Linked DNA regions of Homo sapiens: region 1 is linked to region 2. Evidence: fine-mapped QTL for protein levels in blood plasma. A gene starts in region 2. The other region holds a variant in brackets. All regions are shown on one strand. Distances are between the middles of the regions.

Region 1 (16,181 bases), 1.9 Mb before region 2:
TGAGAACAGAAAGTCTATCTCTTGCCATGATTATGTGGATTATTGATTAATTAGATGTTTTAAAAGTAATGGAGGCTGGGCACAGTGGCTCACTCTTGTAATCCCAGCACTTTGGGAGGCTGAGGCAGGTGGATCACTTGAGGTCAGGAGTTCGAGACCAGCTTGGCCAAACATGGCGAAACCCATCTTTACTAAAAATACAAAAAAAAATTAGCCAGACATGGTGGCGGGTGCCTGTAGTCCCAGCTACTCGGGAGGCTGAGGCAGGAGAATTGCTTGAACCCAGAAGGCAGAGTCTGCAGTGATCCAAGATCGTGCCATTGCATTCCAGCCTGGGTGACAGAGCAAGACTCCATCTCAAAATAATAAATAAATAAATAAATAAATAAATAAATAAATAAATAAATGGAAAGGTAGGTAGTTTGGTTACATTTAAACTTTATTTCTTAATTGGATATATAAGTTTGCTATTCCTGCCTCAGCAACTCACCACAAACTTTGTGCCTTAAAACAACATAAACTTATTATCTTGCAGTTATGGAAGTCAGAAATCCAAATTGGGTGTCACTGGGCTAAAATCAAGGTGTCTGCAGGTCTGAACTCCTTTTCGGATGCTTTATAGGAGAATCTGTTTTCTTCCTTTTCCAGTTTCTGAGGGCTGCCCGTGGCCCTTCCCTCATAGACCCCCTTCCATCTTCAAAGCCACCAGGGCCTGATGGTGTCTTTCGCACGTCCACATTCCATCTCTGACTCTTCTGCTTCCCTCTTACACATTTAAGGATGCTTATGATTACACTGTGTCTGCCTGGGTCGTCTAAGCTAATTTCTCTATTTTAAGGTCAGCTGATTAACACTCTCAATTCCATTTGCTTCCTTCATTTCTCTTTGCCATGCAAAGGAATGTTCGCAAGTTCTAGAGGTCAGGATGTAAACATCTTTGCAAGGAGCTATTCTGCCTACCACATGGGATAAAAGAAAAACAATAGCTGAAAACCTCTCTTATAATAAGTGATAACACAGGTGATGAAATTTGGGAAGAAAAATGTTTCATATTCCTTAGAGGATCCAGAAATTTTATAAGTATTTATTCCCCTGAAAGTCCTTCTCTCTAAATGCCATTTATGTAGGAACAGTCTTGTGACTTTTAAATGACCCTATCTATGCTAAAGGGACATAAGAACTCCCAGAGGGGTTTCGACAGGTGTACTGGGTTCAGCAACATTACATTCCTTTTTTGATTTATTACATGAAGGAAATCCCTTCTTCAAGTTATTACATGAAAGAAATTGATACATGTGGATCTCCGTTTATTCAGTACCATGTGGATGTGACAGAGGTTGTTGGTTCAACTAAAAGTAATGATTAGAATAAATAGGAAATATTTGTGTTACCAAACTTTTAAAGAGTGCATGAGATCCCAGGGGTATATTTATTACTTTGTACATTCATGTATTTATCCATAAAAGGATGAAGTAGGGGTTTTCACATACATTTAAGGACCAAACAAGTTGACCTTACAGTCCAGACCAAATATTTAATATTCTGGGCAATTTGTTCTAGGTGGACCAGTGCAGCTACTTCAAAAGAGATTTGTGATGTAGCCACAAAATGCAGGCCTCAGTTGATTGAGTTGTATTAACAGATTGTTTTATTGATTCCTTTCAGAGAGCAATATTAACTGTGCCCATTTCTCAAGCTAATGAATGTTAAGAAAGGCAAGAGAAGGATTGTCTAAACATCAAAGATTGAATTAAATGCTATTCTGAACTTATTTTATCTGGGAGTTTCTGTTTGTCTTCTAGCATTGCTTACTAAACATTTTAAACTATATCATATTTATCTTATTTATCACAGTGTATCAGATACCAATGCAACCTTTAATCATTTGTATATTTCTTCAAAAGTGTACTGACACTGTATCAGCTATAGTTGACATGCAAGATGAACATTTTCCAGTTTACTATATTAAAAGGATATATTTACTAAAATGCTATTTTTGATTAATCTTGCTATTACTCTCTGTATGTATACAGAATGGTAGTTTTATGACATTTTTACCATATGCTAAATCGTGATGGATAGAAGATAAACCTGTCTGAGAAAGTTTGATTTTTTTATTTTTCATTGAAATAATTTCTGATTTTAGACAGTTGATGTCATTTTGCTATTTTAATAGTTCTATATGACTGTAAAGCTATTTTATGCCATATTTAATATTTTTAAAAGGCGTTAACTTATATGAAATTTTCAGAATTTTTGATACTATTTAAAACATGACTACTCTTAAGTTTATCAACAATTGGGTAATGGGTGATTATTATTTATAGAAAACAATTTTAATACTTCAGTTTTCTTCTTTTGTCTTAGGCTTTAAATATCAGATTATTTTATTTAGTTAAAATACAGCATTTTTCCTTATTTTAAAATTTAGTTGCCTCACTAAAATATATTTTCAAATGTTTTTCTTTTGAAATAACATCCTCTTCCAAAATTTACTTCTGAGTTTATATCATTAAATACTACTAGTATTATTATTCCTACTACTGTTACTACTGTACATCAAATTGGTTAACATATATGTCTGAAAAATGGAAATAGATTAGCTCATTTAGTCCTCCAAAAAACCTGTGAATTTGGTTCTATCATAAATCATATTTTACAGATAAGAAAATAAAAATTCTCACTTCTGATTCGAGAGTCTGCTTTTTTAAAGACTCTGCCACACTGCATTCTCAGTATAACATCTGTAACATGATTTGAGCATGATAAAATTGTTGATGATTTCTTAACATGAATCATAAATTTATAAAAATCTCTGGGAGGAAGTATGCAAAAATTAGAAATATACCTTTTTTTCCCCGATGGGCAAAATATTTATTATGTAATTAGACTACTTGAGCAGTTAAAAGTTAATTCAAAGACTTCTGGAGTTTTGTTACCTCTCATAATTTGGACAGTACTATAATATGTATTTGAAATCATAAATATTCCTTATAATAAAATATATAGCCTACTACCCCTTCCCTACCCAACCTTGAATCAAATTTGGATTAGCGCACTCTCTTAAATTGCTTATTCGCCAACTGATGTAATGTTACTCTGCTCAAACTCATGGTGTTGGCTCGGGAGATTCAGCTCACTAATTAATCCAACACAGTAATTAATTGAGTCACCATGCCAGATGTCAAATCCTTTTTATATCTTTCAAGTCCCCATCTTCAAGTACATTAGCAATATGCCACCTTCTGCAGGAAGCCTTTGCAGACCAGGCATTTAGATGTATATAGAACATTTTAAAAAACACAGAAACACCAAACAAATTAGTTTGACAAAAAGTTGTTCTTGGAATTATATAACACACTGAACATAGAAATAGAGTATCTTTTGTCCACACCTTATTATCTTGGTAGATACTTCATGCTTTAAAAGTTTTATAATAGCAGCAGCAGCATAGTAAATACTTTCATTGGGCCAGATACTGGTCAAAGTGCTTTACATGTTTTATATCATATTTACTTCTTACACAAGTGCAAGAGAAGATAATATTTATCTCCTTTGTTGCAGAGGCGTAAACTGCTACTTTGGGAAGTTAAATAACTAGCCTAAGGTCAACTCAGTCTGATTCCATAACACATGCTCCAGTCTTAGAAATGTTTTCTGTGATGTGGTAATAATAATACTGCCTAGCTTATAGGAATTTTGGACTAAATGAGATAGCATATGTGAGTTATCCACACATTTCAACTACTTTTACTAGTCAGTAATCTGTGGAAGTGAACCCATTGAAATCTTTCAACTTTAAAGCAAAAAGCACTCTTTAAATTAAACAAGTAACACTATAAACCTTGGCGTTAGGGGATTTTTACATGCCTAAATTTGACTGTTTGCCAAGGGCTCTGTCTTAGGATTCTCCAGAGAAACAGAACAACAGGATGTGTACGTATATAGCCAGAGATTTGTTATAAGGAATTGGCTTGTCCAGTTATGACGGCTGGGAAGTACAAAATCTGCAGTACTCAGTCAGATGAGATACCCGGGAGAGCCAGTGGTGCAGATGAAGTTCGATAGCGGTCTTTGGGATATTTCCTCGTCTGCAGGGAGGCCAGTCTTTTTGGTCTATTCGGGCTTTCAGTTGATTGGGTGAGGCCCATTCATATTTTGGAGGGCAGTCTGTTTTACCCAGAGTTCACTGATTTAAATGTTAATTTCATTCAGAAACGCCCTGTGAGTTGGCAATTAAAATGAACCATCACAGGCTCCGAAGGTCTGCACTACCTTGCAAGTTTCAGTTTTTTGAGGTATGACCTTATACCCCTGAAAAAATTGATACCAGTGAGGGAGCCCAGCTTTCTTTCCAGCATCTCACCTCATATCTCAGAAATAACTTATATTAAATACTATCATGGTAGCACAAACTTGGTGTTTTTGAAAGTTTTGCAGTTTTATTCACTGAAAAAAAATCAAAGGACTACTGATGAGGAAGAAATTTTAAAAATCACCTTAAGTTCTGATCAATATCTGGTTTGGATGTGTTTTAGAACATCTATGTTTATATGTTGTACCTTTGAAGATTTTCCCCATATTCTCCCAAGGACAAAGATCCTTGCAATAAACTAAATCTCAGCTGTGCTAGCACGTGGTAGTGCTTAGCAAGTATCAAGCAACAGTGATTACTTGGAAGGTTGGGTGTCTGAAATTTAAATGGCGTTTGCCCTCTCTTGCTTTTAAATATTATCAACTGTTGATAGCTAACTATTCTGATTGGATTCAGCCAACTGCTGGAATCATACAACATACATAGTTAATTAAATAGAAAGCCCCAGATTACTTACAACATAATAGTAAACTCATCGCAACCTGTTAAATTCAACAAATGAAATTTGACAGAGAAATCTCATTTTATTCTGTTCAATCAGAATAAAATGTATTATTTTCCCACAGGGTATTTGTGATACTGAATTTTTTTTAAAAAAATGAAATATACATATAAAGGGCACTATAGATATTTTGTTGACCTAATAATGAAATAATGCATGTATCAAATTGCATCTTAAAAGTTTTAAGATAGTCATCTTTATAGAAATGTGGTTAAGGAAAAAATTAGAAGTTCCTGATCTACCTGCTTATAATTAGAATTATTAATTGCCTCCATTTATCCCTTTGCAGTTTTATCTTTTCCAGTATTCATCTTTTATCTTAATAATTGCTAGTCTTCAAGCTTCATATTGTACATATCCTGTAGCAAATATATCTCTACCTATGTCTCCAGCATTCACCTCTATAGGCAAAGGCTGCTCAGTGGGCACACCTGTGACTTTTCTACCTGAGCACTTTTTTCCAGCGTTAAGAGCAAACTCCTTGCAAGCTGGGAAAGCTGGAAGTGCTGGAGATTTCCTATTCCCAAAGGTTATCCTCAACCAATGATGGACAGAAAGTTGGTGGACTAACACCTCCGCTTCCCTTCCTCTTGGTTAGGATATAAGATGTGTTCTATATTGTCTGTTAGAGTTTGGCAGTGGAATTGAGCTCTGATTGCCTTGATAGTGAACATTTTGTGGACCTCTTCCCTTTCCTGCTTACTTCGCCACAACCTTACTGGAATTTTCTGGGATCAACTTCCCAGTAAACTACTTGTATTTGAATCAGTCTCAGGGTAAGCCTCTGGGGAATCCATACTAAGACAGCCTCTAAGATGTAATAATGAAATAAATTTAAAAGCAATATCCAAATTATTATTGAGATTCTAGAGGACATAGAATTATTTAATCTTTATTATTCAATTTTGGACCTCTACTACTGGTACATAATCGGTATTCAATAACTGCTCTTTAAAATAAAAATCTAATCGAATTGAATTTGCTTATCAGGAACATTCTCACTGACTCCACCCATATTCTCCATCTTTCCCATCTCAATGGCATAATTTATAATTTTGCTGAGGCATGACTTTTTGTTGAGCCTCAGATTTCATTGATGTTGACATTGTGAATGATATCTTCCTTCTTAATATTCATTTTAATCTGGGCTCAGGACTACCATACTTTCCTATTTCTCATATCTCTCTGGGTCTTAGCTCTTTTTAATTTAACTGTGAGTGTTTCCCAAAACACTTCTGGCCTTTCTTCTCTTCTCCCTCTGTTCCCAGTGCCTCAGGGAGCTTATCCACTTGCAAAGCTTCAGCTACTAATTTACAAATGACATTTAAATAAAAAAATCTCTAACCTTGGCTTTTTACCCTTTCTCTAATAGCACATTTCAACTGTTTTGCAAGCTTTCCCATTTAATTCCTCCAACTACACAGTCACAAAGAGAGTTTATTCCTGTCTCCACAGACAGCCTCTCTTTTCCATGACTTCCAGCTTTCAGTCACCTTTAATCCTAGTCCTCTGCCTCTCCTTTCGTACCTCTGCAGGGAGTCCATTCTCTCAATTATCCTGTGTCTTTTCTGCATTTCTACCTCTCCTTCTCACATCTCAAATGCTATTCACACACAGTTACACATACCCATACCTCTCTCCTTTTGCCTGTAACTACTACCATCTCTTTTTCCTTCTATTCAGAGTCAAACATCTTCCAAGACTCTCCATTTCATGTCCAGAAACCAAGCATCATAACTCCTGCTTTCGTAATGATTGTTCTCCTCTTTCTGTCCTGCTACCACTGCTTTAGTCGAAAGCCCCACCGCTTCTCTCTTGATTATTACAATATTCTTCTGTTCTCTCTTGTCATCTTTTTATTTACTCAGACCACAGTATGTCCTGAAAGCAAAACTACAGTAGTCACTTAACTCCTGTGCTTTAAAATCATTCTAAAGGGCACGAGAATACCCCAAGGTTTTGGTAAAGCCTAAAAAAGGCCTTCCTGTTACTCACCTCCCCAGGTGATGCTCACCTCCCCAGTTCTGACCCCTTTTCCACTCTCTTATAGACTTTAGGCATTCTGAACTACATGCAGTGCCCTGAATGTCCATTTTTTTTCCACATCCGTACATTTGGTCATGCTGTTTTATCCTCCTGGAAACCCCTATTCCCCCCTCCCCACCTATCTCTCTTCATCTCACTAAGTCCAATACTTATTTAAAGACTCTGCTCAAAGTCACTTCCAAGGTAGACCTTCTCTGAAGCCTCCTGTCTGGAATAGATAACCACTCTTGGAGTATTTCCCTGGTGCTCTAGGTTTACTAGGATAAGAGCACTGATCACATAACTGTGAGCTCCTGTTTGCTTGTCTATCTCCCCTGCAGACCATATGCTTATTATCTATTTTTTATCTTTCTATCCTTCCCACTTAGAACAATGTCTAGCTTATACTAAGAGCTCAATGAATAACATTGAATGAATCAGCACATT[A/T]ATTTTTTCCTTTCACTTTTCTCCATATCAGGAACAGCTGCACACCCCTCCTTATTCAAGACCCTGCATCCTTCCTGAGGCTTTACATCCATGTCTGTTTCGTCTGTGATCTTGCTTCATCTGCCTAACTCAGCAGAGCAATTACCACAGGAAATGCTATCTTGTACCTGTTTTATTTGTTTATAGACTTGCACTTTTATTTTAGTCTCGTTTGAGAGGAAACTTCAGTAGGACAAGATAACTATGTCTATTTCTTCAGTTTTTATCTCATAAGGAGATATGCCCATGATGGTTTCTTGAGAAAAGTTGACTAATTTCGGTGTAAGATTTGCAACCCTTGGATGCAGCTAGGAGGATGAGGTGTTGCGCCTAGTGAGGCAATTATGATTTGTTTACAACAGACTCAGTTTTAGATCCCTCACTATGACATGGGTGAAGGCCAAGAAGGTGTTCTGCTCTACCATGCTTTCTGTGAAGTCTCATCCAGCCTCACACGTTCCAGTGACAAACCATCTGGGAAATTCCATCTGTCTCTGCTTGGAAACTGAGGTGGCAGTCGCCCACTGTGAGCAATTTTCTATTAACTTCTTGGATAAGATCAGTCAGATTTATACTGAATTGATGGGAACCGTAAGAGCAAGATTGTTCCAAGAGAAGACAAATGTACTGATTCCTCTAATTGGGCTTAAGCCAGTTTCATTCACAGACGCCCTTAGGTTCTAGTAGTGCAAGGACTTATAACCTTTTTAATTGTACCCTGTTCCTCTTGGGAAACATTGGTGAAATTCATTATTGATGGAGGTTGTAGATTTGTCCCTTAGGGAGGGCAAGATCCTGGCTTCTCTTATACTCTATCTGCTATGTGGAGAATTAATGGAAACTGAGTGGACAGAAAAGCTGCTCAAAGAAGACTTGAAGGCAAGAAATGTAATGCAGCAGAGCCTTGGAAAGTGATGCGTTGGTTTGGTTTCTAGAATTAGGGTAGGGTTTTTGTTGTTTTATTGATTTTTATTTTTATTTATTTTTTTTTTGATGGAGGGGGATTACTCAGGGAAAGAGGAGAAAGAAGTTTGTGTGGAGGCCTCAGTAATCAAAGGCCTGCTATTGAATGTGAGTCAGAAAGGAAGAAATTAAACACCGAAGAATTATTTCACAATTGAAATATGTAGAAGCCAGAGAGGTCAATTGCATATTAATCTGAAGGGATTTGCTGTGTTATAATGCAGATATAGTTATGATGTTGGCAGTGGATGAAAATACATTGTCATATGGCACAATGGTATTGAAATGAAAACCTGAATTTGTGCCCTTCCTGATAATTTTTACTTGCCTCCAAAATAATACCTTTTGTGTATAGCTAGCCTGTTAACCTCAATCTCATCCTGACTTACTTTTTCTCCTGATGGTGAAGTCTTTCCAGGTTCTTTACATTTGGACTTGGATTTGAAAGGTGGAAACACAATTCCTTGCTATACATAGACAATTTTATTTATGGACCTAACTTACTCTCCTCTGCCTGAAATTTTAATACATTTTGGCCTTTGGTTTATATGGCTAAACCTATTTACCCTTAGTTAGGCCAAGTTTGAACTTTTAAAAAGAATTATTTTTACAAGATTATTCATTGTTCCCTTTTCCCAGAACTCCAAGGAGAACTTTTGTTGAAGATGATCTTTTCAGTTATTAGGACGATTAGTGCTATTAATTTAATTAATTTCTGAAAGGAGGAATTGTTTATGTCATCATAAGATGATCAAAGCTGATCCACTCTATGTGTGTAAAGTTGAGACAAATGAGTCACATAACCTTTTCCCACAGAGGATCGGTGTGAAGGATGAAGAATCACTATTGATTTATAGCTCCAGATACTGTTTGTGGGAGTTGTGATTGTTCCCACACATAGGGATCCTTACATGAATTTTCTTAATGCAGATTTCATTGCTACTGTCATTTCTTCGTATTTGCCAAAAACAGAATCATGAAGGCCTAAGGTGGAAGTGGGTGGATATATAGCATCCCTGCCTCTCTAGGGAAATCTATCACCATCTTGACTAGTGAGGAAGTGGTTTGTAAAGCATAACTATTGTTTTTGTAACACAAATTCTAAAATATCAATCTTGAAATGTAGTTTTCCCTGGAGGGGAAGGTAGAAGTAACAAAGCACTGTGAGGAAGAGTTGTTCATGGAGTTGACCAAACTGTCCTCTGTTATGTGCTGATAGGTCTGGCATGCCTTTTAAATTCTTTCTATTTGATGTTTTTGAGGAATTGTCATTCTATACTGATTTCAAAACAATTAGTTTGGCAGGATATGCTTACATGGTTGTAACAAATATTGTGCCAGCATTATGAGGACTTAGCATCAATCTCAGCTTGACATGACAATTAATACATTCAGTAACTTGGAGATGATAACAGAGAGAATGGAGATAGGTACCAGTTTGTACTCCTTCAGTTTGGTCTTAAAAATCAAAATTACTTAGGGATAATGCTTTGTCAAACTCTGATAACATATTGGACTCTGGTTTTAATCTAATTTTCAATAAATATTCCCAGGATGGGATTCACCAAGTTTCATAATTTAACTGTAGCTCTCAGGTGGCATTGACAACCTTTATTATCATATAAGGTTTTCCTAGCATTGGCAAGTTTGTGACTCTTTCCAAGCCACTGCTATAAAGCTCTGTGTTGATGCTGTGTGGTGGTCCAGGGGCAAGTATTCTTGGGTAAATTTCTTTTTTTTTTTTTTTTTTTTTTGAGACGGAGTCTGGCTCTGTCGCCCAGGCTGGAGTGCAATGGTGCGATCTCATCTCACTGCAAGCTCCACCTCCCGGGTTCATGCCATTCTCCTGCCTCAGCTTCCTGAGTAGCTGGGACCACAGGTGCACGCCACCACACCTGGCTAATTTTTTGTATTTTTAGTAGAGATGGGGTTTCACCGTGTTAGCCAGGATGGTCTCGATCTCCTGACCTTGTGATCGCCTGCCTTGGCCTCCCAAAGTGCTGGGATTACAGGCGTGAGCCACCACACCTAGCCTCTTGCATAAATTTCTAATAAGAGAATAATAAAGTAATATTTATTACATACTTTGGAAATTTGAGAAATTATTTGAGAAACTCTCTTGGAGATTAACATATTTTTGCCTGTTAATTTAAATATTGAATTTAAAGTTGTTCTTTTTTTTTGAGACAGAGTTTTGCTGTTGTTCCCCAGGCTGGAGTGCAGTGGCGTGATCTCAGTTCACCACAACCTCCGCCTCCCAGGTTCAAGCAACTCTCCTGCCTCAGCCTCTCGAGTAGCTGGGATTACAGGCATGTATCACTATGCCTGGCTAATTTTATATTTTTAGTAGAGACAGGATTTCTCCATGTTGGTCAGGCTGGTCTCGAAGAACTCCCGACCTCAGGTGATCTGCGTGCCTTGGCCTCCCAAAATGCTGGGATTACAGGCATGAGCCACCGTGCCCAGCCTAAAGTTGTTCTTTATTATTCATTGACTCTTACTTCAATTTTCTCATAAAACCCCTTGTCCCAGCTTGACAAAACTGTGGCTTCTTGATTCTAATAATTTCAGCGTCTTCTGTGCCATTTTGTATCACTTTCTATTTTTTAATGGCAGGAAACCAGACTAAAGCATAGAGTTATGTAGGTTGGTCTGTGGTTTTCTTCTCATACACTTTAGTTCCTTTTCTGATGGTTAAAAATAATGAGCACAACTTGTCGCAGGCATAATGTCTCCCACAAGGCTTCAATCAAGGGGACAGACAGGTCTTGGTGTCATCTGAAGGCTCAGCTAGTGGAGGATCTGCTTACATGCTCACTCAAATGACTCTTGATTCAGTGCTTGGCCTAGTGGGCCTCTACTTAAGGCCACTCACAATATGGCAGCTGGCATCCCTCTGAGCAAGCAGATGAGAGCATAGGACAGGGAGCCCAAGACAAAAGCCACAGTGCTTTGGTAACTTAATCATGGGAGTGGCATCCTATCACTTTTGCTGAATTCTAGGGAAGGGAATTGTGCAGAGCTTGAAACCAGAAGGCTGGGATGACTGGGGGCCAACTCAGAGGCTGTCTGCCACAGAAGGTAATTTGCATAAGTAGTTAACCTGACCTGTGGATAGGGAAGGACTTTCAAATACCAAGAGCCATGGGAGCAATCACAAAAGAAAATTCAGTGAACTTGAATACAGACAACAAAACTGTATGCTATACAGCATCATAACCAAAATCAAAGATTAATAAGTAAAAGACATTTGTGAAAATGAGGTATATTTTATTATTATTCATTAAAATATTTATGGTTTCTCACATCTGTGATCAGTGGCTTCCTGATTAATTTATTTAGATATTAATTTTGCAATAAAGACAAATTAAAATATACAAAACGTGATTTGTACAAAAATTTGGTGGGAATTGGGGATCAAAAGTAGTTTGCTGAGTGTTTCTTCTCCTTTGGTAATTTTGAGAAATATACACCCACACACTGTAAAGATCAAAAGTGGGAGAGAAAGTATGGGAAAGAGCCCGTGATGGGGTCAGAACAGCCTGATTCTAGTCCTGTTATTACTCAAAGTGGATGTGCTATCTTGGGTAATCATACATGCTCTTAGTTTCCTCTTTTATAAAATAGGGGTTATTATACCAGCCCTACAACATAGAATTGTAAAGTTATATAAAATTATACGCATTTAGTCACTTTGAAAAACATACAGATTGTTAAACAAACCTGGATTCCTTTTATTATGCCTGTGAATAGAAAGTAAATGATTCATTCCTTTAATTCCCCAAGCAGTGCATCTAGTCTTTTCTCTTCTGTTCTCTCCCTAAACATACTTTAAAAAGCAGGTTTTGTTGTCATACGAATATAGCTTCATATACGTGTACTCACACGTATCCATACACACACATGCTTACTGATTAGCTGGCATGAATATTCTGAGAACTCATAGCCTAGATAAGTAAACGGTATGGACTTAGTGCATTTATCATCTAAGCAGACAGTCACCATAGAGGAAAAACACATATTTTTAGGAAGAGAAAGAAAGGTTAAGTGGTCAAACTGCCTTTTGAATGATCTTGGCTTCTTTGAGTTTTCTTTTTGTAGGGAGTTATTCTTCAGAAAGCATTTCTCAGGTGTGTGATTGGGGATTTCAGACAATTGGAAAAGTAATTTACCCTGTCTGATTCACTTTTGAGTTAGGTTTGTATTTTAAAATGTTAACTCAATTCTTTCATTATTTATGGCATTTTAGAGCTCCATACAGAATGGAGTGAATAAGGCAGTCATAATGCAGACAGTGATGTACTGTGAAATATGAAGAAATGGGGACAGAGTTTTGGAAGAGCAGAGGCACGTCACGTGCCTTAAGTTTTAGCTTTTATTAAGAAGTCAAACAAATACCATTTGTACCTCATTACCCTATGTGTAATAGTGTAAGCATTACCCCGCAGACAGGAGCAGTAAGAGTCCCTCAGGTTCTGATCCTAATCTCGGATGCGGCATTACCACCTCTCCTCTGAAAGCCACTGCTGCCCAGGCACACGCAGCATATTAGTGCATTTAAAGGTACCCAATTATATCCATGTGTGCATCTGAGATAGGCATCAGGACCCAAGTACATGTTAAATTCAGCTCCTATAGGAAAAAAAAAAATAGCACTTGCCTTTATTAAAGAAGTACAGAAGTGGTGGAAAGAAAATTTGTCCTTTATCTGAATATTTTCAGCAAGAAACCTAGGCAGTGTTATTCTTGGTGCATTTCTTCAAAACTTTGTGAAAATGACAACTCTTCAAAGGAGGCAGACATGTGCACAAGTGTCCCCCCGCCTCTGCTGATATTCCGGGAGGAGAAGGGGTGAGGGAGGAAGAGTGCGTGATGAAAGTCAAACAGTGGTCGGCTCCATTACTTCATTAATCAAGTGGAGGCATTCTGAAAAATGTTTCTCTTTGGTTGCAGCCATCTATTTTTTGGTGTTAATCTGCGCCCTGTGGCAGGGTTTTGTGAAAGGAAACAATGAGCCGTTGTATCACCCCCCTCCCTTTCCCCAATTGTTGTAGCCCCTGTCAGAAGGCTCCGAGGATGATGCAGGTCTGTATCAGCCTGATAAGGGAAAAGAGGATTCAAAATGGCTTTGGAGAGACTCCGTGGGAGTGGAGTGTGCTGTTTTGGACTAGATGAGCTAGGGAATATGGCAGAGGCCCTTAATGGGATCCTAAGGCTTCAGTGCCAAACCTTCTGCTGCTTCTTGAAGATTTTCTAATGAAATATTTTAATGGTAAAATTCTGTGACTGTCATAGGGGCATAGGTTCAAGATGCTGTTTTAAGTCATTTGCTCCATAATCTGTGATTAGTCAATCCAGGTCAAAAAGACAGAAAAAGAAAAAAAATATCCAAACTCAAGAAACCTGTCAGAGTATGTATTAGGTCACTTTTATTCTGTTGACAATGAGTGTTCAATTCACTGTCATCATGAGCTCTGTACAAGTGGCCTGTACATTTTATATACTGTGGGTTCCTATTTTATGGCTAGATGAAATATGAAGCTATCTTTCATAATGCTGATTCCATTTTGGCAGGCCTTTGGATCCACATATGGTTCAGTTAAGCTGTTTTGGAGCCTAATGTACCTTTGTTATTTATTGAGATTTTTGAAAGGGGAATAAGTGGGCTATTTTTACTCTGCATTTAAAAAATACACATTAAATGTTTCAAACATAATTCATACAGCTAAGAAAATTCTAGTGAGCTTTAGAAACGGATCTGCTATTCCTAGGACAGCTAAAATAAAATCATTCCTACCCATGAAGGAAAAAATAAAAAGACAGCTAAAGCTCCAGCAAAATAGAACCACTATCTTACAGCACACGGTAATAATATATACGCAGAGCAATTAGTAAACATGGTCAAGAAAAGTGGGCATCAAGTCAATACACTGTAAAGTTTAAGTATCTTTAAGCTTATAGATGATGCTGAGATTTTTTTTTTAACTATTCCTCCTACTATTGGCCTGGTGTCTTATGAATAAACATAGAGGCACAAAAAATTAAAAACAGTGGTTGTCAGATGAGTGAATGATAGGGAAATACCTCACATACCATGGATAGTCCAGTGCTTATCTAGAAAAACTTAGCTGCTTGGAGGTGATGTTTGCTCCCCACTGCTGAGACCTGATTGGTAGAGGGCAACTCCACCTTCAGATTTAACGTTCTTGTTTTGGTGAGTTTAACTCAGACTCTTAACTATTGGTTAAAATAATGTCTGTGTGAAAATACAAAGAAAGATAGAAGAAAAGTGACACATCCTGTCATATTGGAAGACAACTTTTTGTTTCTAAAAAAGCTTTGATAGGATAGATCTATTTGTATGTATTTGTATATTAATGCTCCTACTTTGTAAAGAGCTTTCAGATTTTTATATGGCCATTTATGTATTTTTATATGGTCATTTATTTTCACTTGAAGTTAATCATTAAGAAGGCTTTTTAGAATGGACCCAAGCAAAACAGTTGGCTATTGTCTGCATGAAAGAGTAGGGATGGTCCCTTTTGGACATGTCACCCTAACTAAATCTCCAGCCATATTGTGTGCCTTCCTATAATGGTTTATTTTGCTCAAGCTTCAGCTATCTTTTATTAGTTTCCTTTATAGTGGTATGTTATTTTTATCATCTTTACAGTCATATGAAAGGGTAGTGGAATAATCATTTCCCTTATTTCATAACTATTCTAACAGTTTTCCTCTGCTGAATCTAGTAGCAAGTAAATGACTATTAAAATGTATTTCTTTCTTTAATGTTTTGTACATACAGCCATAGAAGTCTTGAAGGAAAACTTGACTCAGTATTTATTTAGCATGTTCCATAAGTCAGGAACTCTTCTAAAATGTGGGATACAAAAATCTGAATGCTTCCCACACAGAATTGCTTCATGTAAGAGTATTTAAATAGAACTGAATTCTGTCCATAGCCTTTATGTATATTTTTAAGTAAACCTAACAAACAAAAAGTAGTATTCACATGTGTGCAGGCACACACACATACATGCACATGCATGCTCATATAGAGTAAACAGTTGATTTTTAAGCCAACAAATAAGATAAAAATGAATACATTTGTATGTTTTTCCTATTCTTTATACTCTTAACTTACACAAATAAAATAATCTTATGAAGTAAAGCACACCTCTATTATTGAAAGAAATACACAGATTTAGTCAATATTTTTCTTGTCATAGTTTAGATATTATAAATATTAAGATTGTTTCTAACATTATTTTTCTTATAATTTCATTATTTTACATCATGGAAAAACTGAATTGCAAAATTATCATGAAGATACTTTAAGTACTCTAATAGGTAATATAGAACAAGTGTAGAGCATTTCATCTGTAGGATGAAAAAGTTGTTTACAATTATTGACCACATAGAGCGTTATAAAAAGACCCAATTTAATTAAAGTGGCAAATATGGTGAGGAAACCAAAAAAAAAAAAAAGTGAGAAATGAAAAAAATGCATGCAGTGAAAAGTGCTTCCATATTATTTGATCTTTTGTGAGTTTTTATTTCACTATTGTGCATTGTCTGTGAGCATAAATTATTGAGAACTGTCTGTAACCTTAACTAAGATGGTATAATAAATGTTTGCAATTTTACAAGATTCAAACAATTTAATTGAATTAGGGATACTGAATCTTATTTTTGGATTCCAGTATTTATCTCTAGACTTAAGAAATAGAGTTCTTTGGTAATAATGTTATCATTACGAAGTATTGCTACTATTTGTCACAAATCCTACATACCACTCAAGTGATAGAGGATAAAAGTATACTCAATCTT
Region 2 (16,181 bases):
TTATAGGTACATATTACTAGTGATTTAAGATATTCAGATTTTTTTCACTTGCATTTTATTCATATTTCAGCTGCTGATTTACTTCAGACACACCTCAATGCCTGTGCTAATTTGCATGTTTTTTCAAGAGTTCAACACAAACTTAGGAAACACATTCCTAGATAGACCTCTAATAAGTGACCTGCACAGTCATGTAGTATAGTATAAACAAGTAACAACAGTTATCTTACTCTATATTTTTCAGTACTTACTGACAAAAGAAAAGATCTTCATAGGCCTAAATGCATTCTGGATGAAATTATTAGCTACTTTCTCTGTTCAAAATCACCTTTTCATTTGCTTGAAGGAAAAAATTCAGATTATTTGAGCAGACAACTAAGACCAAATGAATCTAAAGCTCTCTCACTTCTAATTATTTCGAATTAGATAACAGTATTCAGGTATAGATCCTACATGGAAATAGCCTCCAAATGTAAAGAGAAGATAATCCATGGAGGGCGTCATTCTTTAAAAACCTCTTTGATAAGAGAGGGGGCACATCTTTTGTACACATTGTAAGAAGATTTAAACATGGAGATGCCCTCCCTCCCTCAGACCATGGGGCCAAAACCAAAGGGGGTTTGGAATTTCCCAACTCCACCGCCAAAGATAATCTTGTATTGGGACAAAAGTCGAGGATGACTCAGAATGTAATTAGGGTTGTGCATCTAAGCAAATGACACAATATAGCTTGCGGTATTAAAAAAAAAAAAAGAAGAAAAGAAAAGAACACAAGGCCCAGGAAAAGGCTGCTAATGTATCCACACAGAGACAAGGCTGTGGCAGAATGAAAACAAAACCTCCTTAATTAGCAAATTATAGCACAGGGGCTGATAAAACTCTGTGTTTTGTAGCTGAGCTACCCACTTATCGCTCCTCCCCTCTCATCATCTGCACAAGTGAGAGCACTTCTAATGTTTATACTTAAAACAAATGACAGGGGGGAAAGGTTTCTAATAAGAGGCTGAGCTGAAGCCCCATTTCTAAGAAAATAGAATGGCTCTAGTGTTTTGTCAGCATTCTTGCTAATGCCACAACCAACAGGATGAAACAGGCACATAGCACAGAAGATCCTGTAGCCCAGACTTGTTTATCCACAGGCTGCTGGTCTGTATTGTTATTCAGGTGCTTTTTTTTTCTTTTCTGATATGTATCTGCTTTAGGAATATTTCCCTGTTCTTGTGATGATGGGCAGGAGAAAGAAAAGACATGAAATTCCCTTGTTTGTGTGCCTCTAAAATGTCACCTCACAGCATGTCCAGACACCCAGCCAAGAAATGGCTTAGTCAGGCTCTCTGCCAACTGGCATGAACCTGAAGATTACTGGGCCTCCTGGAGGGCGATCTTTTTCCCACACAACAAACCTTACAATCTACCTTGCAATGGTCCCAATACTAATACTAATTCCTCTTGCAATATAGGGCAGGGGTCAGCTAACTTTTTCTCAAAAGGGCTGGATATTAAGTATTTTAGGCTCTGTTGCAACTCCTCAATTCTGCTTTTGTAGTATGAAAGCAGCCATAGACAACACATAAATGAATTAGTGTGGCTCTGTTCCAATAAAACTTTATTTACAAATGCACGGACAACATATAAAGGAAGGAAAGTGGTTGTTCTTCAATAAAGCTTTATTTACAAACAGAGGTGGCAGGAAGGATTTGGCCCAAGGGCCATCGCTTGTTGACCCTTGATAGAGAGGATGGAAACTCAGAATATTAATAAAATTTCTGCCATTATGTAGTTAAAAAGGTAATATGTAAAATATAGTTGCATCAAATTTCACCCATCAATTTGATTATAGTCCAAATCTGCTCATGGACTTCATTTATTTCCCTATTTATTAAAAAATAATAAATAGAGCCAACTATGCTGTAAGCATTGTGCTAGAAAAGTCAATCTGCTACCAGAAATGATTAAAAAAAAAAGAAGAAGAAATAAAAACTAGTGAACAAGACAGGTGCATCATGTACCTCATAGAGCATAGTGTCTATGAAAATAGAGAGTCGCTCATTCTGCAAATATTTATTAAGGTTCTACCATGTGTCATCCACTCTTCTAGGTAGAAGGTATACTGCATCAACGAGATAGACAAGGATGCTGCTCTAATGGAGTTTGCATTCTTAGTAGGCGGAGATAGAATAAATAATCTGACAGACAATAAGTAACACAGCATTATGCAGTAGCAAGTACCATGAAGAAATAAAACAGTATAATAAGGTAGAAAGTCTCTTAGTAAAGTGGGGAAGGTGGTAGGTAATGGTGCTCAGAGACTTTCTGAGAAGACTGCTGAGTGAAGACCTGAATGAAGAGAAGTAGCCAACCATGCAAAGATCAGGGGGAAGAATTTTCTGAGCTGAGTAAACAGCTTGTAAAGTCCCTGAGGCAGGAATGAGCCTGTCTGTTGGAGAAATAACAAGAAGGCCAATGTCACTTGAGTGTCTGGAATGTCGTTTGAAGGTAGTAAATGATGGGGCCAGTGAGAGGTGTGGGGCAGATCATATAAGACCTCCTGGTAAGAATTCAGATTTTATTCCTATGTAATGAGAAGTTGTAGGAGGATTTTAAGGGGGGAAATGACATTCTTATTCATTTAAATTACATTAAGCCAATACCTTTATATGAGAGGAGTGCTATTAAAAGAAAGCTCAATGTGAAATGGTACAGTCAGGGGTAAGGAAGAACTGTAATTGCCCATAGAAACTCATAGAAAAGGACCTACTTGTCATAGCCCTAAAACCTGAGCTCTCTCAATGGAGACAGTTTACCAAAAGGCTGTTATAACACTAACTGCCTAACTTCTGGGTCTGAAAGGGTTTTTTTTGGATCTTTTGATTCTAAAATGTAACAAGCAACCAATAATACCGAACTATTTGTTGAAAAGTTAATACAGATTCTGAAGGGCTCTTACTTGGCTTGAAAATCAGAGGTCTATTCTTCAAATGAAGTTGATGGGGACATTTCTACAACTCGATTTAAAAGATCATTATTTCTATTAATCTTTCTCAGCAACTGTTACTTTTCCCAATCTCTAGGCATAAATTGTGCATGTATCTTATTTTCACGTTTAGTGACAAATTATTAAAATCATACTTACTAAATATCTACTTTATTTTTTTTGAGATGGAGTCCCGCTCTGTCATTCAGGCTGGAGTGCAGTGGTGCGATATCAGCTCACTGCAACCTCCGCCTCCTGGGTTCAAGCCATTCTCCTTCCTCAGCCTCCCTAGTAGCTGGGATTACAGGCACACACCACCAGGCCCAGCTAAGTTTTTGTATTTTTAGTAGAGACAGGGTTTCGCCATGTTGGCCAGGCTGGTCTCGAACTCTTCACCTCAGGTGATCTGCCCGCCTTGGCGTCCCAAAGTGCTGGGATTACAGGTGTGAGCCACCACGCCCGGCCAATATGTACCCATTTCACACATTTAGGAAGTTCCCACAAATGTGAAAATAAAACATAAGAGCATTCTCTCTGACTGTTGCACAGCCACCACCGGCCACCAAAACAATAATATACCAGTGAGAATTAAGTTCTCATGTGCACATATTATACAGATGTATATTAATATAATTAAGTTCTCATGTGCACATATTATACAGATGCATATTATTATAATTAAGTTCTCATGTGCATATAGTATACAGATATATACATATTATACAGATGTATGCAGTAAATGGCTCCCTACTGTACTGAACAAGAAATACTAAGTTCTTGTGCTTATAGAAGTACAAAACATTATTGTACAAAGGAATATCTAGCTGACCCTCAAGTAGCCTAGTGCTAACATTTAAGCAGACTTTAGCATCTTAAAGTAGTTACAAGGTCCCTTAATTTTCACTATTTTATAGTTACCACTATACACTTGAGCACTTGATTTCTTAAAAACTGATTATTACAATAACAAAAAATTAATCCAGACCCTTAATGAACATGTTCAGAGGTATAAAAATGGATAAGCGACATTTACTACACTTGAGGAACTCACAGTCTAGGTGGGAAAACAAGCCTAGAAACAAACAATTAAAACAACCACCACAACAACTTTGAACTACAGCATTAACATGATACAGTCAATGTACTGTGATGACATTTGAGAACTCAGCCTGGGAGGGTAAGTGGAGTGTGGGTAGATTTCCTGGAGAAACTGGCAACAGAGCTGACCCTTAAAGAATAATTAAGAAGATGAATTGGAGTGACTAGAGAAGTTTTTGAGATTCTAGATTACTGGTTAAATATAATTTGAATAATTAATAACCACCTACTCTGGACCCAATATTGTTTTAACTAGTATTAGGACAAAAATAACCATAGGTTATAGTCCTTGCCTATAGGACAACTTACAATCTATTGAAGAGGTAAGGTGTATACCTCGAATAAAATGCTGACAGTAGACAGTAAAGTGCAGAATGCAATAGATAATGCATTCATTTTTTCATTTAACACATATTTATTGCATATCTGTTATAAATATGTTATATACTCTTCTGGGAACTGAGGTTATGACATTGGACAAACACACATGGTCACTGGCCTCATGGAGGTCACATTCTAATGGATATTAATAGGGATTAATATATATGTAATATATGGGTTTAAAAAAATCGTCATCATCAATGTGTTTTGGGTAATAGCATTTCAAATCTTAACTCTGAAGAAAAGAATACAATATGCAAATAGGGGACATCCTTAACCAAAAAATGTTGTCAATAGAAAAACAGCTAAATAGTCCAGTAAAATCTTTGTATTTCTTAAAATATTCTGGATGGCAATTCATAACTATATTTTCCATTAATAGTCATCAATTTTAGCTAGTGTAAAATATGTATAGCAAATAGACTATTGTTTTCTGTTACAAGGCATTATTGACTCAATTTATTTAAACTTTTAACAAAAAAAGACATCATTTGGCAAAAGCAAAACAGATCTTCTAAGGATTCCCCAAATCTTAGAACATTATACATATTTAAATCTAAATATTTTAAATGTACATCTTTGTGAACTTTTTGAGATGTGGGAGACAGAAAACAATAGTTCACAAAGTACAGGATGTGGGCTAAATGTTTCACTGTCATAGAGAGGTAGGGAGAGATCATAAGAAAGTGACAAAGACACAGAGGCCAGCTGTATTTATCATTACTTATCTAAGAGCTGGTCACTCTCAGGTATTTACTATGACTTGCTAATAATTCCAAAAAGAGCTGTATTACAGAAGAGATCAAACCAGAAACACACCCAGGTGTTTCACAAAATAAAACTATGATGTTAGGCATATTATTCACACCACCCTTCCTGGTCTGAGATGTCACAATAATGCTATCAACCTACCTCATTTTAATCGACAAGTGATTATGGAAAGTTGATTTCTTTGAATTAAATCCATCACATCAAGAAAGCAGTGCCATAACAGTTCCAGTATTTATGGTGACCCACAAATCATTTGCCCCCTTGCATGCCTTGCTTCTCATCCTGTTCAGTTGCAAGACCAGAAAAGTTGAGGAAGGAGGTTTCCCTTCATGGAAGGTGATGGATTAACATAATTATCATATAGCTTCATTTAGAGTTGATAACACATCTATTCTGCCTCAAAACCTTTCCTGATAGCGATGCCATGAGCTGCATAATAATCACTATGCTTTGATTAATTATTTTGCCAAATAAATGGATAAATTAATTTCACCTACATACACTGATAGCCTCAGTTTCTGCAGGGTGTTGCTTCTTCCTATGGCAACTACTTGGAATCAAAATAGAAGTAATACAAATTGCAGTACTGAGCATACCAAATGGTTACAGTAAAAAGATTTCCATTTCAATTATCAGAATAAAAATATCACATGAAGTTTAGAACTTGGAGTGAAGAAAACTCCTAATTAAGGGAAACTTATGAAAGCCTTTAGCAAGTTCTTTGCTGAATGCATTTTTTGGTTTCTTGATCCTCCAACCAATCACATTGACAATGACAAAAGATATGCAAATTTAAACTGACAATAGTCAAGCCACATTGCTCTGACTCATACCAATAGGGACGTTTTCAGCATATATTCAGCTTGATTTTTACACTTGAAAGGGTGAATGTAACCAAAGAACATTTTAATAGTTATTCTTGGCTATAATCTGAAAGCTATCCCATAATCATTGACCAAGAACAATGCAAACAAGAATCAAATTTATTTTGCAAAATAAATTAACATATGAAACACGTGCATGATTTAAGCCCAGCAGAATTATGTGTTTACCCTGTCACTGCTGAATAATTGCATAGCAACAAGAAATATGCATTACTATGTTTGAATCACTATTGTGATTATACGCTTTAAGCAAACAAAACATTACGTTTTTGGTAGAATAGATCATTCAGGATAACTTGGGACTAAATTTTCCTTCCCGTTCCCTCAAAGAATCCAGACTAATATGTAATGATTGAATTCTCACTAAAAACTATACGGATGGTGTACTGAAGAATAATAACAAGCTGTTCAACCAAAATCATTTGTTTACAATGGAAATAAATTTTACCAAAGAAAAATACAAACATCCTATTATAAACTACTACTGAAAGTAATGCATAAAATTTCAGCTACAATTGTAAAAAACCTGAGAGTTCTGTTTGCTTTTTATTCTTCTGCCTACCTACTGATTGCCTATTACAGTCCTATAGTCTGTAATAGAAAGATTACAATATCAGCTTTGGAAACTGTAGAACTACTAAGTTCCAGTTAATGTGTCAAATAAAATAACAGTGATCTTAGTTCAGTCCCTAGTGGACAAAAGTAGAATAACTATTACTTGGCATGATTCAGCAGGCAATGACCTAAGTGAGTGTGACCACACAGGAACAAAATAGAGCATTTGTCCTTTCCCTATCTTTTATCTTTTTAAAGGGATTGCCCGGTTAACAGACTAACTTAAAGAAGCCTGATTGCATACCTATCTACATGTACCAAGTGAATCCATTAACAAGGGAGAGAAGCTTTTCACAAATTGAGACATTGCCTCCCTTCTAGTAGCATAGTCAGTTGAATATACTTATTCTCGGCTGCCTATTATTAAACAGAGTGCAAAGACAGAATGAATTGCAGAAGTGTGTTCATAATTTAATAGGCTTATCTTCAACAAAAACTTAAATGGTTTGTAGATAAATAACTGGATAAACTATTCGATTTGATTTCTATAAATTGAGATTACATTCATACTCAACATTAACATTCATCAAATAACATGGATACTTAAACTCGCCAGGTACTGTCTCTAACTACAATGCCCTGAGAAGGGAGGTATTTCAGGAATATAGTAGACTACATGCTGCGTTCAGCCCATATCTGCAGGTGCATGTCTTCCTCAACAGCCAGCATGCCCTCATCGTGAGCGAGCAACCCCTTTCCGACAGTTAACATTACAATGTATCTTTTTAATTTTTTTTCTCAAGGACAGAAGAAAAAAATATTTAACAGAAATCAGTCTACTATTCTACCACTTGCTGAAACTAACAGTTCCCTTTACATAAATATACAATTTCTCCAACCAAATATCATATTTTATATTTACTCTCACTTCATGTTAATTTTTATAAAGGTTAAAAAAACAAATACTTTGTGATGATTTGCCACCCCAGCGGCACAAAATTTTCTGGTGCAAAATCGATTTGATCTTATTAATTAATATTGTCATTATTATTTATTTTTCACCAACTTGCTTAAGAGGTACATACTTTCTTTCTTAAGGTAGTGTTTTGACAGAGAGAACCTTAATGCTGAACTTTAGAAAAGAGAAACCAAAAATGTCATAAAATTTGCCAGGGCTAGACACACAAACGGGGTGCCCCCACACATTCATAGGTTTGGGCAAGCCCCCAAACCTTGGCTTACCCAGGAAGCCAAACCCAGACAGCCGTCTTGCAATTGCAAACACTGCCCCCCTGGAGCAAAAGGTAAATACACAAATGCTCCCCTAAGGAACTTTAAGTTAGCTGCAGTGCAAGAAAGGAAAAAGGTCCGTGCTATTAGAAACTGAAAGCAATCACTTACTTTTTGCAGCCACTGAGTATAATTTTCCATCACATGTTCCAGATGTTGAAGTTTCTGGGAAGAGAAATCCGGTTCCACGTGTGGAGCATCTCTCTGCAGAGCGTTTGTGTTGTACTGGTCTGTCGTACTCTCACGACAGTTGCCATCGTGTTCTGGAAGAATGAAAGTGTAGGCACATTGCCCATGTTGAATCCGGTTATATCTTCTCCCACTGTTTTCTGGACTTCGGCGCTGATTGCTGCACCCTATGTGAGTCAGAATGGCAGCGAGGAAAGCAAAGGAAAGGAAAACTGTCATTGTACTGCCAGCACACTCCTTCCGTGCCTCTCGCAAAACTTGCTCCTTTCTTCTGACCTCTAAAACTAGTTCTTTATTTCAGGTAAAACTGCTTGTTTGTTTGACTCTTTCCCCCTCAAAGAAAGCGTTTGAAGAAGAATCATAGAAAACTAGCCATTTGTTAGCTTTGTTCTAAAATTTTAAAATTTTTTATTTCACTGCAATGATGTTTTTCTTCGTTAAAACTTGAGATATTTATTGCATAGTAGCTGAGATTTATTGTTTCCTCTCTGTGTGACCGTTCAGCATGGAGCCTGCCTGAGTCAGCTGCGTGTACATATTCTAGACCCTTTCCTCTACCCTATCTGCTGCAGATCTGCTATTTTCTCCCAGACCTCAGTGAGTTTTATTAAGGTTGCACATCCAAGCCAAGCTGGAAGCAGGCAGCCTTTCACAAGATGACTTGACAGGAATGCATGAGTGTGCCCCTATACTAAGGATTGCTGATGGCTTAGGGCGGCGGGATCGTCTTACAAATTGGCTAGATGCGCATGACCTCGATCATGTATGGCCCTCCCGCCCCTTTCCACAGACAATTGCCTTGAGCCTTTAGCAGATTCATGGCAAATCAATAAATAGAGCAGTCCACCTTAATACACTTTTGGTGTGCATGCTGACCTACTAAAATATAGCAAACTAGCAGTATGTTTTTAAAGTTACTATTTAGTCGAGGGACCCTAAGAAGAAAATTGGCATAATGTCCAATGGAATTATTTTTGATAGAGAATGATAAACCCATATCATTATTAAATGTCTTTAAAAAACATGTATTCTTGACTCTGAGGAAAAATATGTTAAAAAACAGTTTTTACAGATGGTATTCTTTCATTGTATTCACTTAGACTTTTAGGAGTTGAAGAAAATAATCAGAGAGGATCAAATTAGCAAGAAAATTAGCATCATTTGTTGCTCAAAGCAATATGTTGCACAAAGCAATATAGTATGTGCATATTAAAGAGGGTTATCTAAGTACCTTTTGGTATAGGGTTCTTAAATGAAACTGGTGTCCTGATCAGAATGCAACCCTTCATGTTCTGTGTATATAAATTGAGCAACTTCCCTACAAAAACAATGTGGCTACAATTTAAAGCAGTGGCTTGAGAATTATTAATTCCTGTGGTATATCCTAATCCTGTATTTTACAAGGATCTCTTTGGTGGCTATGGCTGTCTTTAACACTGGTGTGGAAGTTCCACATAAAAACCTCCTGTGGCTGCACAGACATACTATGTGAGAACAAGCATATATCAGGTGTGCTAACAGCCAGCAATGGGCTGTACAGGAGACATCTCTGTGCTTCTGTGAAGGAAGAAAGAAAAATTATCAGAAGATGATTTCCCACAGGCAGCGTATAAACATTTGAACAAAGGGACCCATAAACATAAACAGGCAATAATTGTAGAATTTAGGGAACGGCTTTGAGATCTTTACTAGATGCAGAAAACCTGAATTATGAGTTGGGATTTTCATTAGGAACTGGGAGGGCTTTTAGACAACTGCAGTCATGGTGTGAAAACAGAAGCCACAGCTGTCATCTCCCATGTCTTGGAAGGAGAACAGGGCAGTGGGTGAAGGTCCGTAGTGGTTAGAGATGGGCATTTAGGGAGAAGTTAGAGGAGAGGTCAAAACAAATTCCAGAACAAATGCGATTTACTTGGGGAAAGAAACCTTGCCGAGATTCATCAGTCCTTTCCACACCAAATAACAAATTTCTGATTGGACAGATATGGAAGCAAGTTATGCCAAACACAGCAATAAAATATTTGAACCACTTTTGCAGCCTCTTGAACTTTTGCGTGTCTCCTCATTGAGTCATGTATCACTCCTGTGCAACAATAATAATGGCATGCATTAAGACCTTACTGTTTTCCAGGCGAAGCACTCCTTACACACTATCTCACTTAATCATTCCAACAAACCTAAGATCACGGATATCATCCGTTTAACCCCATTTTATCAATGGGAAGACTGAGTCACAGAAAGGCTAACAGGATGTAATTCACAGAGCTGGCAAGTGATGGCGCCAGTATGTGAACTCAGGCAAACTGACTCAGAGCCTGTTTCAAACCACCAGGCCAGCCTGCTTTTGGAAATCTCTGCAAGGAATGAAAGCAATTTCAAAAGCGCTCCAGCTGCATTGATTTACAGTCCTAAACCAGGAGAAGTGACGTACCTAGAAGAAAAAGCACTGTTAAAACCAGAGTATCTCTCCAAAGTGATTCAGGCCTTTTCCAGCACACGCGTGCGCGCGCACACGCACACACGCACACACGCACACACACAGTGACAGGTAACCTATGCACAGCCACAAAGATGAAGTGCACTGGCAAAATGCAGGTTGTCTAAGAACACTTTCCAATAATGCTTGATTTGAAAATTATCCATGGAAAGAAGAGAGTCCAAACCCGACACCTAGAAGTGTTTTGCGAAGAACTAAATACAGCAGAAAATTGGCAGAAGACTAATGGATGAGTGGTGAGGTTTCTATTAAAGTGCTCCTGTGTTTTTAAATAGCCGAGACTGTTAAAAATCTGTTCCTCCACGTGTGTGTCTGTGTACGTCTCTGTGTCCTTATCCATGTGAATTTTCGCAATTAGAATAAATGAAAAGCAGGAATGCACAATTTCCTGAGGGAAAAGTAGACACTAAGAAAGAGAAGCCTGAAATGCAAATAAAAAAGGAGGGGTCGAGGGACAAAGAGACAGAGAAAAATGTAGAGACTGATTTATTTCTTTTGCAGAAAAACAAAATCAACCTTAAACCATAACACTGGAAGTACTAGTGTCATTCTGAAAAAAAATGTCTGAAGATGAATTTTAAGTAATTAGAAAACACAAGGATGTGCAGAATTGACTCCGGTGTTTTTGGAACTCCAGTTAAGGAGACTGTAGGTACATTTAAGGATCCTGACACACTAAAGATAATATGTCTTTGGGATCATGCATCTAAGCAACAGCAACACTGTTGTGTGTTGCTGATTATTCAGAAATGGGGCAGAATTCAGGATGCATTAAAATTTAGGGAGTAGGGCTGGGTTCAGTGGCTCATGCCTGTAATCCCAGCACTTTGGGAGGCCGAAGTGGGAGGATCGTTGGAGACTAGGATTTTGAGTACAGCCTGGGCAGCATAGGGTGACCCTCCCTGTCTCTACCCAAGATAAAATAAAATAAAAATTAGCCAGGTGTGGTGGCACGCCCAGGACCTGTGGTCCCAGCTACTCAGGAAGCTGAGGTGAGAGAATCGCTTGAGTCCAGGGGGTTGAGGCTGCAGTGAGCCATGATTGCCACTGCACTCCAGCCTGGATGACAGAGTGAGACCCTTTCTAAATAATAATAATAATAATAAGCGAGTAATAAGAACAAGCCAATTAAAATTCATCTACCACACCTCCATGAAGGATAAAATATTTATAAAGAACTAAACAATTCTGTTCAATTGAATTCTGTGGTAGCTTGAACCCAAAAGCTTTGTGTTTTATTAGAGATCTGGAATAAGGAAGTGTAGGCTTTAAGGTTTTGATCTCATATTTACAAAGAGTCCTAGTAAATGTCCCACTTAGTCTGAAATTTCCAAAGGGACCAAGAGCCATTTATACCAGAACTTAATGTGCCTAAATCTATCCTAAGAAACAGTCTTTGATAATTCTTTGGTAAAGCTTTCTTAATTTCTCCAGGTCCAATAAATGCTCTCTGTGTTAAATTTCAATAACCTTCTCCTCATGTCTCCAAAACTGCACTGCTCACGTTGCTTGCTAATTGTTGCCTTTTTTTTTATCTGTCTCTTGCTTTTGCTGTGAGCTGCTAAAGTGATCTTCTCTTTGTCATCATTGATTCCTCAACATTCACTATGCACTTTGTCTGAAGGAATGAAAGAATAAGCAAATAAATGAATGAGCTGATTAATGACTCAGTTGATGCAACTTCCTGACTCTCTATCTGGTTACTACATGACTGGCCACATTCATTGCATTTGTTGGGTGAGTTTGCCTAGAATCCCTAGGCATGAAGAACTGAGGATAAAGCCAAACTTATTCTAAAGAATGAGTTAGACGCAAGAGCAAAGTACAATAATAATTCATAGTATTTTTTAACACTTAACAAATAATTTTCTCATCTAATGTTTACAGAACCCCCATAATTATGTAATATTATATATTATTATTCCCATTTTGCTGATGAGAAATGTGGAGCCATAGAGATTAATCGCCCAGGATCTATGATCTCTTAGGAGGCAGAACAGGAATTTGATCCTCAATCCATCTAACTGTGAGGCTCACATTCATTTCCCACTGAGCTATATTGTTTATGACAATACTTCAGTATTGAGAAAATATTTCTTATAATTTAGGGAACAAGAACAACATGGTGACTTCCCCCTTCAGAGGTCCCTTTCCTCTGAAACCCAGGGCTTTCACAGATTCATGTTATGATCTTCCAAAACAGGGATAATATTAAATCAGGATGCACCAGTATGGTAAGATATGCTTACCAACAGCCAATCTGATTAATCGGATTATACTTTAGAAATATTCTAAATGGTTGGTCCTATGCCATGTCATCTGTTAGATATCTTGATCATCACTCCTGCTCTACAATAAAATCAAAATATATGAAAAAAAATAGTATTTATTTCTCAAAAATACCACCAGGCAATGAGATTCAAGGAAATAGTCCTCTGGTATTTATACAACCACTTATAGGGGAAAAAGGGGTGGGAAAGTATTCTCCTACTTTGTGTTCTGAACACAATGTGATTCACCACACCAAGGGTGCCATATTCTGTGACTCTGCTCAGGCACTTTTAGGGATCAAGACTATCATCAGGCCTATAGAAGTGGCAGCTCTATCTAAAAGGAGGGAGGGCACTTGGCTGTAGCTCCTGGAAGCAGAGCCAAGACACCTTCACTCAACTATGTAGGCAGCAAAGGTATCCACAACAGTTGGAAATATCACAGGGGACAAAACCAAAAACAGAAGAAGATGGAGGATATCATCTGGTAACTGAAGGCACTTCATGAGTACATGCAAAATATCCATTTAGAACTCCCAGAATAACTGGGAGGATGCTACAAAAAGCTGGAAACACTGCAGCAAGTGGGATGAGGACTGGAGGCATATAGATAAGTGAGGAAAATAAAAATTATCATATAAATATTCCTCTGTCTTTTGATGACAGAAATTTCTGGTAATTGTTAGGTATCTTGTTTGTTAAGTAGGTTTAATTTAATTTTATTTTTGAGACAGGGTCTCGCTTTGTCACCCAGGCTGGAGTGCGGTGGCATGATCTCAGCTCACTGTAGCCTCTGCCTCTGAGGCTCAAGTGATCCTTCCACCTCAGCCTCCCTAGTAGCTGGGACTACAGGCATGCACCATCGTACCCGGCTAATTTTTGTATTATTTTGTAGAGATGGAGTTTCACCATGTTCCCCAGGCTGGTCTCGAATTCCTGGACTCAAGCAAACCACCAGCCTCGGCCTCCCCAACTGCTGGGATTACAGGCGTAAGCCACCAGGCTCAGCCTGTTAAGTTGGTTTTAAACTATAGATATACAAGGTGGAAACCGCTGAGACTGAATTAATTTGCTCTACCTAAGAAAGGAGAGAAGGGATTAAGAGACTCAGGAAAAGATCTAGAAGTGGAGGACTGGAGCTAGAGAGGTTTAGAGATTCTGTGTCAGGCAGAGCTGCTGAAAGAGAGAGGAGGCTTGTGGCTGTGTGGCCATGAGAGACTTGGGAAGATATATCAAGTAAGGAGATTTGGAGTGAAATAATGTTTCCAGTGAGATCAAATTTGTCTTATCTGTTTCAGTAAAATATATACTTTGGGGCAAATGACTTCTTAAAGGTGAATAAGAGGAATTGAAGAATTGGTCTTTGCTTCAAGCATGGGAACAGCTAACATATGGATTACACAGACTATTAATGTGAATGCAATTGAAGTCATTTGTTTCAGGTTTGTTTTTCACACTAGATCAGAGTCCCAAATGCTAGAACTGTGTCTGTCTTATTGATCTGTCTGTCCCCTTTTCCTGGCACAGAGGATGAACTTTATAAATATCCAGCTGACTGTCTGATTCATTCACCTTAAATCTCAATGATGAGATGTGAAGACACAGAGCCAGTCCCTTACAAGTTTTCAGGTGCTAGACTTGCATAGGCCCTAGAGATCTCACTTTGTGGTGAGTCATAGAAGGCACCCAGAGTCCATAGATTCCAAAAGTCAATCCCAGCAGTGGTAGTGGAATAATACCTAATACTTCCAGCCACCTATGAACATTGCCACGGTTGAAAAACCATTCAAGAAACATCTCAGAAATACCTCTCAATGTGAGATTAGTTGTTAATTCTACAATGAAGGTAACTTCTACAAATACGCAAGCCAGAAAAGAAAACAAACAGCTGAGGACTGTACCATGCAGAAATACAGATGCCAACATTCCCCTCATACGAGAATGAAGAAGGATTTCCATTGGAGACCCAGTGAGATTTTATTATAAAAAGCATATAAACTACTTTGCATTTACTAACTGCCTCCTTCTTTCTTCTCTTTTTCCCTACAGAAGTCTTGATTCCTAGATGAGAGCAGAATGCAAAGGCCTCTCTGTCTCAACTTTTCCAACTTCAGAAAGCACATGTATTTTACATGTTCTAAGAAACTCTCAAAAAAGAACAAGTAATTTCAAGAAATGCCTGGAATTACCATTTCATGGGTTATGGTAACCCAGTGGGACTTGGATAGTTCTTGTAACCAGTTCTTGTAGCCAAAGTACCCTCCGCTGAGAGTAACTCAATGATGTAGGACTTTCTGTTCAGAGGAAAAACTATGTTGTGGTCACAGAGTTGTTACAACCTCCACTCATGAGTTAAAAAAAGAATCATTCACAAGCATTGTAAACTCAGATTTTAAAAAATACGAGGGAAATAAGATCCTTAATGTTTTCTAAAATTGCTTGTTTTTCCTCTTTTAGTCTTATTTTTATACTCTCTCTTAATCTAATCTTACTTCTGATGTAATACTGTCTTATCTCTCTTTCCTCCTGCCAGATTGGATGAACTGTTTCATAGTGGTTAAGGTGGGAGGATACAGACTGCTTTGTTTTTGTTTTGTTTCTTAATTTCTTGTCTATGCTAGTCCATGTTAGATGATATTAGACAAGACATTTAATTTTCCTAAGCTCAGCTTCCTTATCTGTAAAATGAAGACAGTAATAACAGTACCAATTTTATAAGAACGTTGTGAAGATTAAATAAGATAGTGGATATAAAGTACTGAGCACAGTGTCCAGACCATATCCAAGTGCTCTCAATGTTAGTTCTTCTTTCTAAATGTGAGTTCTTTTTTCTGTGCTCAGAAATTGTGCTACTTTTTGCCTTGTTTAGTTGAATTTTATAAGTACATTTACCTAATTTCATTCCCTATCATTTTGCCCTCCTAAATGTTTAAAATTATTTCTGAACATCTTAAAAAATCACAAATTTAAGAAGCACATTTTAAAATGAGAGGATGCTCATGTTCACAATGATACACATGTAAATAGCTCTGGTTTCTTGAGGGCAATGTTGTTCCTTACTGCTGCATCCCCCTAGCACCTGAAACAGTGAATGCCTGTCACATAATCGGTGCTGGATAGGTATTTGTTGAATGAATGAAATGAGTTGGGGACAATTTAGTAACAATGTAATACTCTGGCTACTGAAACCAGAGAAACATCAAGTAGGGCAAACAGACATGTAAACCAATCACATTTGATAGTGAAAATTTTATGCCCTGGGAGCTATGGGG

Which allele goes with the higher level. Positions count from the first base shown, and alleles are read on the strand shown. Strength reflects both the effect of a copy and how common the allele is.
For the plasma level of the protein whose gene starts at base 8,721 in region 2, allele A in region 1 goes with a higher level than allele T (moderate association).

Evidence for each region. PIP is the chance, under the fine-mapping model, that this variant and not a neighbour inherited with it causes the effect. The UK Biobank Pharma Proteomics Project read protein levels with antibody pairs (Olink). The fine-mapping took linkage between variants from a reference panel, not from the people measured, so its PIPs are less certain.
Region 1: its variant is fine-mapped to the plasma level of the ANGPT1 protein (UK Biobank, PIP above 0.99).

The regions. Positions count from the first base shown.
Region 1 is chr8:105,561,951-105,578,131 of GRCh38, forward strand. All of the region lies in intron 4 of ZFPM2 (zinc finger protein, FOG family member 2), which reads left to right. Among named protein-coding and RNA genes, the nearest start is that of ZFPM2, 250 kb to the left of the region's middle. The variant A/T (reference allele first, on the strand shown) is at 7,350.
Region 2 is chr8:107,489,198-107,505,378 of GRCh38, forward strand. ANGPT1 (angiopoietin 1) reads right to left here and starts at 8,721. Exons shown (of 9, transcript NM_001146.5): 1 at 8,065-8,721. The coding sequence starts at 8,361. RefSeq lists a silencer at 12,220-12,420.